Homo sapiens: one gene and its partner. The protein of the gene in region 2 interacts with the protein of the main gene of each other region in a biochemical or structural test. Each region holds a gene or a part of one and is shown on either strand. Other genes may lie near its edges.

What was found. The genes of interacting proteins can lie anywhere in the genome.
Region 1: the proteins of MNAT1 (region 2) and MTA1 form a complex in vitro, tested with the Homo sapiens proteins (one study listed by BioGRID).

What each region holds. Positions count from the first base shown.
Region 1 is NC_000014.9:105,457,827-105,461,326, forward strand, and holds part of MTA1 (metastasis-associated protein MTA1), read left to right. Parts: intron 1-443; coding exon 444-546; intron 547-2,531; coding exon 2,532-2,631; intron 2,632-2,938; coding exon 2,939-3,127; intron 3,128-3,500. UniProt on the Homo sapiens protein: Transcriptional coregulator which can act as both a transcriptional corepressor and coactivator. Acts as a component of the histone deacetylase NuRD complex which participates in the remodeling of chromatin.
Region 2 is NC_000014.9:60,811,261-60,814,760, reverse strand, and holds part of MNAT1 (CDK-activating kinase assembly factor MAT1), read right to left. Parts: intron 2,775-3,500; coding exon 2,634-2,774; intron 1-2,633.

The DNA.
Region 1 (3,500 bases), about 45 Mb from region 2:
AGGCAGGAGAATCGCTTGAACCTGGGAGGCGGAGGTTGTAGTGAGCCAAGATCGTACCACTGTATTCCAGCCTGGGCGACAGAGTGAGACTCCGTCTCAAAAAATAATAATAATAATAATAATAATATAAATAAATAAATAAAAAGGCTTGATTTAAATTTACAAACCAACCTTCCCATCTCTTGTGGCCACAGTTCTTGGAGCCCTGCATTCTGGGTGGGCTGGGAGGCCCCTTGCGTGTGCACCCCAGCCCCGGGTTGAGAGGCCACTGTGTGCCTGTGTGTGCAACAGCCTCCGTCCAGCCTTGCACCCTGGCCTCACCTATGGGGCCCTGCAGCCCTTCCCCCTCCCCGTCCCAGCAGCTCCCCGCACCCGGGGAGGAGAGGCGCGGCCCGGCGCGCCGTGGGACCCCGTCTCAGAAAGGCCACACTTCCTCCCTGTAGGCGAGGAGGATGGCCGAGACCAGTCCAGGTTGGAGACCCAGGTGTGGGAGGCGCACAACCCACTCACAGACAAGCAGATCGACCAGTTCCTGGTGGTGGCCCGGTGAGTCCTGCTCCTGGGCAAGGCCAGCAGGGGTGGTGCCTGGAGCTTCTGTTCTCCCTTCCCTGTGGTGGGTGTTGGGGACGTGACAGTCTTGGATCCCATATCCCAACAAGAAGCCCATGCGCTGCAGCCCTGAGACCCCCGGTAGCAGTTCCCAGAGAGGCTCGGGAGTGCTGGGTCCAGGCCCTTCATTAAATAGAAGGGCGGCCCTTCTGGGGGGCAGGCCTGTGTGCCTGCCCATGTGTCCCTAATGGGGCTTTCCCAGGATGGGCCAGAGGTGCTTTCCCACTCCTGGGCCACTGGGAGCAAGTGGGCTGGGCCTGGTCATGGAGCAGAGCAGCTGCAGCCCGGGCAGACCCCTGGGGCAGGGCGAAGGCCGAGGCCCAGGAGAGGACCATGCACCTTCCCTGCCAGCAGCCTGGGAGGTGGAGAAAACCCCAAAAGAAGCCCCAAGGCGGCTGCCAATCTATCGGGATGCCCTCAGTTAGACGCACACGGGTTCTGGGGTGGGTGCCGGGCCCTACTCCGCAGCCTGGGGCCCAGGACACGAGGAGTCCTCGCCACCTGCGGGCTGCTCCCTGCGATGCTCATGCAGTCTGTCCCTGGTCCCTGGCGCCTGGGGAGCTGTGTGCCTGGGGGGAGTCCGCGCTGCCCGTGGCCCCTGGTCCCTGGTCCCTGGGGAGCTGTGTGCCTGGGGGGAGTCCGTGCTGCCCATGGCCCCTGGTCCCTGGCACCTGGGGAGCTGTGTGCCTGGGGGGAGTCCGCGCTGCCCGTGGCCCCTGGTCCCTGGTCCCTAGGGAGCTGTGTGCCTGGGGGGAGTCCGTGCTGCCCATGGCCCCTGGTCCCTGGCGCCTGGGGAGCTGTGTGCCTGGGGGCAGTCCGTGCTGCCCATGGCCCCTGGTCCCTGGTCCCTGGGGAGCTGTGTGCCTGGGGGGAGTCCGTGCTGCCCGTGGCCCCTGGTCCCTGGTCCCTGGGGAGCTGTGTGCCTGGGGGGAGTCCGTGCTGCCCATGGCCCCTGGTCCCTGGCGCCTGGGGAGCTGTGTGCCTGGGGGGAGTCCGTGCTGCCCATGGCCCCTGGTCCCTGGTCCCTGGGGAGCTGTGTGCCTGGGGGGAGTCCGTGCTGCCCGTGGCCCCTGGTCCCTGGCGCCTGGGGAGCTGTGTGCCTGGGGGCAGTCCGTGCTGCCCATGGCCCCTGGTCCCTGGCACCTGGGGAGCTGTGTGCCTGGGGGGAGTCCGCGCTGCCCGTGGCCCCTGGTCCCTGGTCCCTGGGGAGCTGTGTGCCTGGGGGGAGTCCGTGCTGCCCATGGCCCCTGGTCCCTGGCGCCTGGGGAGCTGTGTGCCTGGGGGCAGTCCGTGCTGCCCATGGCCCCTGGTCCCTGGTCCCTGGGGAGCTGTGTGCCTGGGGGGAGTCCGTGCTGCCCGTGGCCCCTGGTCCCTGGTCCCTGGGGAGCTGTGTGCCTGGGGGGAGTCCGTGCTGCCCATGGCCCCTGGTCCCTGGCGCCTGGGGAGCTGTGTGCCTGGGGGGAGTCCGTGCTGCCCGTGGCCCCTGGTCCCTGGCGCCTGGGGAGCTGTGTGCCTGGGGGAAGTCCGTGCTGCCCATGGCCCCTGGTCCCTGGCACCTGGGGAGCTGTGTGCCTGGGGGAAGTCCGTGCTGCCCATGGCCCCTGGTCCCTGGCACCTGGGGAGCGGTGTGCGTGGGGGAAGTCCGTGCTGCCCATGGCCCCTGGTCCCTGGCACCTGGGGAGCTGTGTGCCTGGGGGAAGTCCGTGCTGCCCATGGCCCCTGGTCCCTGGCACCTGGGGAGTGGTGTGCCTGGGGGAAGTCCGTGCTGCCCATGGCCCCTGGTCCCTGGCACCTGGGGAGTGGTGTGCCTTGGGGGAGTCCGTGCTGCCCGTGGCCGCTGGTCCCTGGCGCCTGGGGAGCGGTGTGCCTGTGGGGAGTCCCTGCTTGGCCGACACTGTGGTCAGCGCATCTCCTTTCCCCAGCTCTGTGGGCACCTTCGCACGGGCCCTGGACTGCAGCAGCTCCGTCCGACAGCCCAGCCTGCACATGAGCGCCGCAGCTGCCTCCCGAGACATCACCCTGGTAAGTGGGCCCAGGGCGGGACAGGTGAGACCTGGGGTGGCCCATGGCCCAGAGTGGCTGCGCCCTTCTTCCTACCAGGGCCCAGCACCTGCCCCAGGTATTCAGGACCCCTGCAGAGGTGCTGTCCCACCTGGACTGGCCTTTCCTATCCACCCCAAACTCGGCCAGACTGTGCTGAGGGTGCAGGGAGGGTTGTGCTGCTGGGCCTGCAGTAGGGGATCCTTGAGGTACTGAGGGAGGGGGTACCGTGCCACAGGTGCAGGAAAAGCCACCTTGGCCCGGGTGACCCTGCTGTCTCCTGCCGCAGTTCCACGCCATGGATACTCTCCACAAGAACATCTACGACATCTCCAAGGCCATCTCGGCGCTGGTGCCGCAGGGCGGGCCCGTGCTCTGCAGGGACGAGATGGAGGAGTGGTCTGCATCAGAGGCCAACCTTTTCGAGGAAGCCCTGGAAAAATATGGGAAGGATTTCACGGACATTCAGCAAGATTTTGTGAGTACCGTGGGTGGCGATGGGGGAGTGGCTGGCCATGCCCATCTCCAGGTAGGCTGCGGGGGTGTGGGCTCCACATCCCACTCTGCCCTGAGGGAGCCTGTCCTGCACCCTGATTCCCTGTGCGGAGCTGCATGAGTTCTGTCTCAGCTGCGCTCGGCCGCCATAGTCCTTCCTGTCACACTGGTTCAGCAGACAGGCATGGGGGCGCTGGTGGGGCCTGGGCATAGAGAGCCATGCTCCTGCCACCATTGCGTGATGAGGATAAGGGTTGGCCCAGGTGACGGAGGCCAGGGTATCCTCACGGAGACTTTCCCTTCCTTGCTGCCCCCTCCAGCCCCAGGCTTGGTTTTGCTTTGTTTTTGACTAAGCT
Region 2 (3,500 bases):
CATTCCAGTCATAGAAAATAGAGTTTTATGACAGTGTTTTCTATCTAAGCCTCATGAATGCCCTTACCCTTATTTTTCCTTTAGTTTCTCACCTCCTTATAATTTAAGTAATCTTGCTTTCTCTTTTTTTACTCCTGGTTAACTGACTTAAATGCTTTTTTGGCAAAAGCACAGTAGAAGAACACATATATACATATTTTCCCCAATCATAGGATAATAGCATTATCAACTAGACAAGAAAGTTAAGTGTATTAACACTGCATACACACACACACACACAAACACAAAAGCCTCAGGGAAATAAATTATATGAACATAAAGGGAAAGAGAAGAATGCAAAAAGACTTTCCTGGAGAGGAAGATTTTCCGGTTTGTGAAGTCATCAATATCATACAGGGTTATAAGTATCAAATAATATAGTAATAAATCCATGAAACACTTCATAAACCTTAGTTATTATTACTGTCATTATCTAACAAGGTTGACTACCTAGGAAGCTAATTGCTGGAAAACAATAATTTGCAAAAACCCCGCTATTTCTTTCAAGCAAAAATACACTATTTTTTTATGCAAAAATATAAAATATATTGTCACAAAGTAAACAGTCAATATAAACTTCAGCATGGAGCCAAAATGAGCTCATTATTAGAAAAATAGTATTAATCAGGAGAAAAGTGCTTCAGAAACAATGTATTTTAGTCAGTTAGCTTAAAGCCATATAAACAATCTATCAAGAATATACTGGCTCATCTCAGTTATAATGTCACTCTCTCATCTGAAAATAAAATGGATATTAAACAAAAATCTTTTTAAAAATATAGAAGTAAAATATACTAGAACCTCATTTTAACATCGTTCTTAGAGTTACACAAAGTAAGTAGTGCCATGTCCACAAACAATACTCTTATCTAGGAAATCACTTTAAATCCTTCATAGTAGTTGGCATGATATAAATAAATAGGCATAAGGGTAAGACAAACTACAATATGAAAATGAAAGTCATTTTCATAATTCTTATCACTAAACTCACATTGGGATAGAGACTGAGTATCCCAAATGAATTTATATTATGCCAAATTCTAGAAAAACATAGTTTTCCCCAGTACATACTGTGTGGACTAAAGATGGCCATCACACTCCCATTAGGAGGTGAGATCTATATCCATTCCCTTTGTAACTGAGTGGGCTCTTTTACTAATATGGTGGAATCAGTGCTGTGCCAGTTTCCTAGCCCAAGCCCTAAAATGTTAGCATCTTCTACCTCCTTATTCTTGGGATATTCTCTCTTGTAACCCTGAGCCAACATGTGAGAAGTACAATCACACTGTTACAGAAATTGATGCAGTTTCTGATGTAGTCAGCCCCTTCACTAGATTCACGGTAAGGACTCCCCTCTACTAGACCCACTGCACTCAACTCTATGTGGGAGGGAGCACGTGGGTGAGTCAGCGCAGATCTAGCCAGCTGCTCCAAGCACCAATACAGGAACAAGTTTTGCATGGGGCCCGCAGTCAGACCAGACACAAGCAAGCAAGTGCAGGACCCAGCCATCCGCCCCAGGCACGGACACAGAAGCAAACTCTACGTGGGGCCCACAGCCAGACCAGGCATGTTGCCTCAAGGGGAACATGGCAGTGCCCAGGTGAGGGGGCCCACAACCCCAAAGCCCCAGGGGAAGTGTTACAGTGCTCCTTTAGTTCTGCCATCAGACAACAGTGTGTTGGCAGCTCAGTTGGCTTCTGGCCTTGTCACCTAGGGCAGCTGCTCTCCACCAGGAAGGGCAAAGTGCCAGTGTGACAGCCTTTCTGGGTACCCACACTTGGTGGGTCCCAAGCTCTTGTCTGGCATCCAAGAAGAATGAGGTCACAGGGATGGTTAAAAGATGGCGAAGGTGATAATTTTATTGAGCGATGAAAACAGCTCTTAGCAGAGAGGGGAGCTGGAGAGGGGACAGGAAGAGCAAGTCGTCTTCCCCGAAGTCAGGTTGTCTCTTCCTCTACTTACTGAGTCTGGGGTCTTTATAGGCACAGGATGAGGAGAATGTGCTGAATTAGCTTATGAGTAAGCAAAAAAGGTTGAAGTGAAGACACTACTCAAAGATGGGCATGACAGTGTAGAAAACCAATTAGGAAAGGGTAGATATACATAAAATAGGTGAAGAGTGGGGATCAATCAGAGGAAAGCACACCAAACAGGAGGACAAGTTCTCAATCTGGTCCAAGGATTTAACTTGTAGCTTGGCTTTCAGGTTTTAAACTGTCTTCAACATGGAGATGGGGTTTCTCTGGGTACCCGTCCCTATCTGCCTAGGCATTTGGCTGCCTCCTGTCGCTATCAAAACCACATGGAGAGGTGTCCTGAGAATACATTAGGGAAGCAGAAAAGCCCAAAAGAACCACTTAAATTCCTAACCCACAGAATTGTGAGCATAAAAACATATTGTTCAGTGTGGATGGAGGGCAACCTCTTATTCAGCAATAAATACACTGATATCAATACATAACCAACAAAACTAAAGGTGAACCAGATTACAAACACTGTGGAAAAGCCCTTTAAATGCCATCATCCAGCCTACTAGGAAAGGTAAATCCTGAAGAATGTTTTTTACAATCACAATTAGCATTAATACATACCAGCTCATCTAAAAAAGCCTGCTTATTCTTCCTTTTTAGAATCTGCTGCAGTTGTTCTTCTTTTTGTATAAATAATCTTCTTTGTTCATTTTCCTGTCGTTCCACTTCTAAAGCTTCTTCCAGTTCTTCCTGTTCTCGAGTCTAAAACAAAAATTTATATATGGCGTGGAATAAATTTAGGAGCCAAGAGCAATCATATACCACACTCTAATACTTTCTTTATTGGAAGCATAAAACACACTAGTCACTTATTATTTAATAATGTAGCAATTCCATATTGAAGAAAATAGAATTTACTTTATTTCATGTAGACACGTTACTATTAAATAAAACAACTATTCTGTTATACCATACTAGTGGAATTTTGCTATACTAAGGCCACTGGGAACATATTAAGGGAATTTGAGGGATGAGTTTAGAAAGATGACTAGAGGCAGTAAGGTATACATAAAGATCAATTGGGTTCAAGACTGACAATAGGAGGACTAGTTAGAAGTATATTCAAATAACCCAGATAAGAAATAAGAGCCCTACGCAGCGGCTCACACCTGTAATCCCAGCACTTTGGGAGGCCACGGCGGGTGGATCACAAGGTCAGGAGTTCGAGACCAGCTTGGCCAACATGGTGAAACCCTGTCTCTACTAAAGATACAAAAAATTAGTCAGGCATGGTGGCACATGCCTGTAATCCCAGCTACTCGGGAGGCTGAGGCAGGAGAATCGCTTGAACCCAGGAAATGAAGGTTGCAGTGAGCCAAGTTCACACCATTACACTCCAGCCTGGGCAACAGGGCGAGGTTCCATCTCAAAAAAAAAAAAAAAAAAAAAAGAAAGAATAGAAATAAGAGCCCTAAATAAAGTAATAAT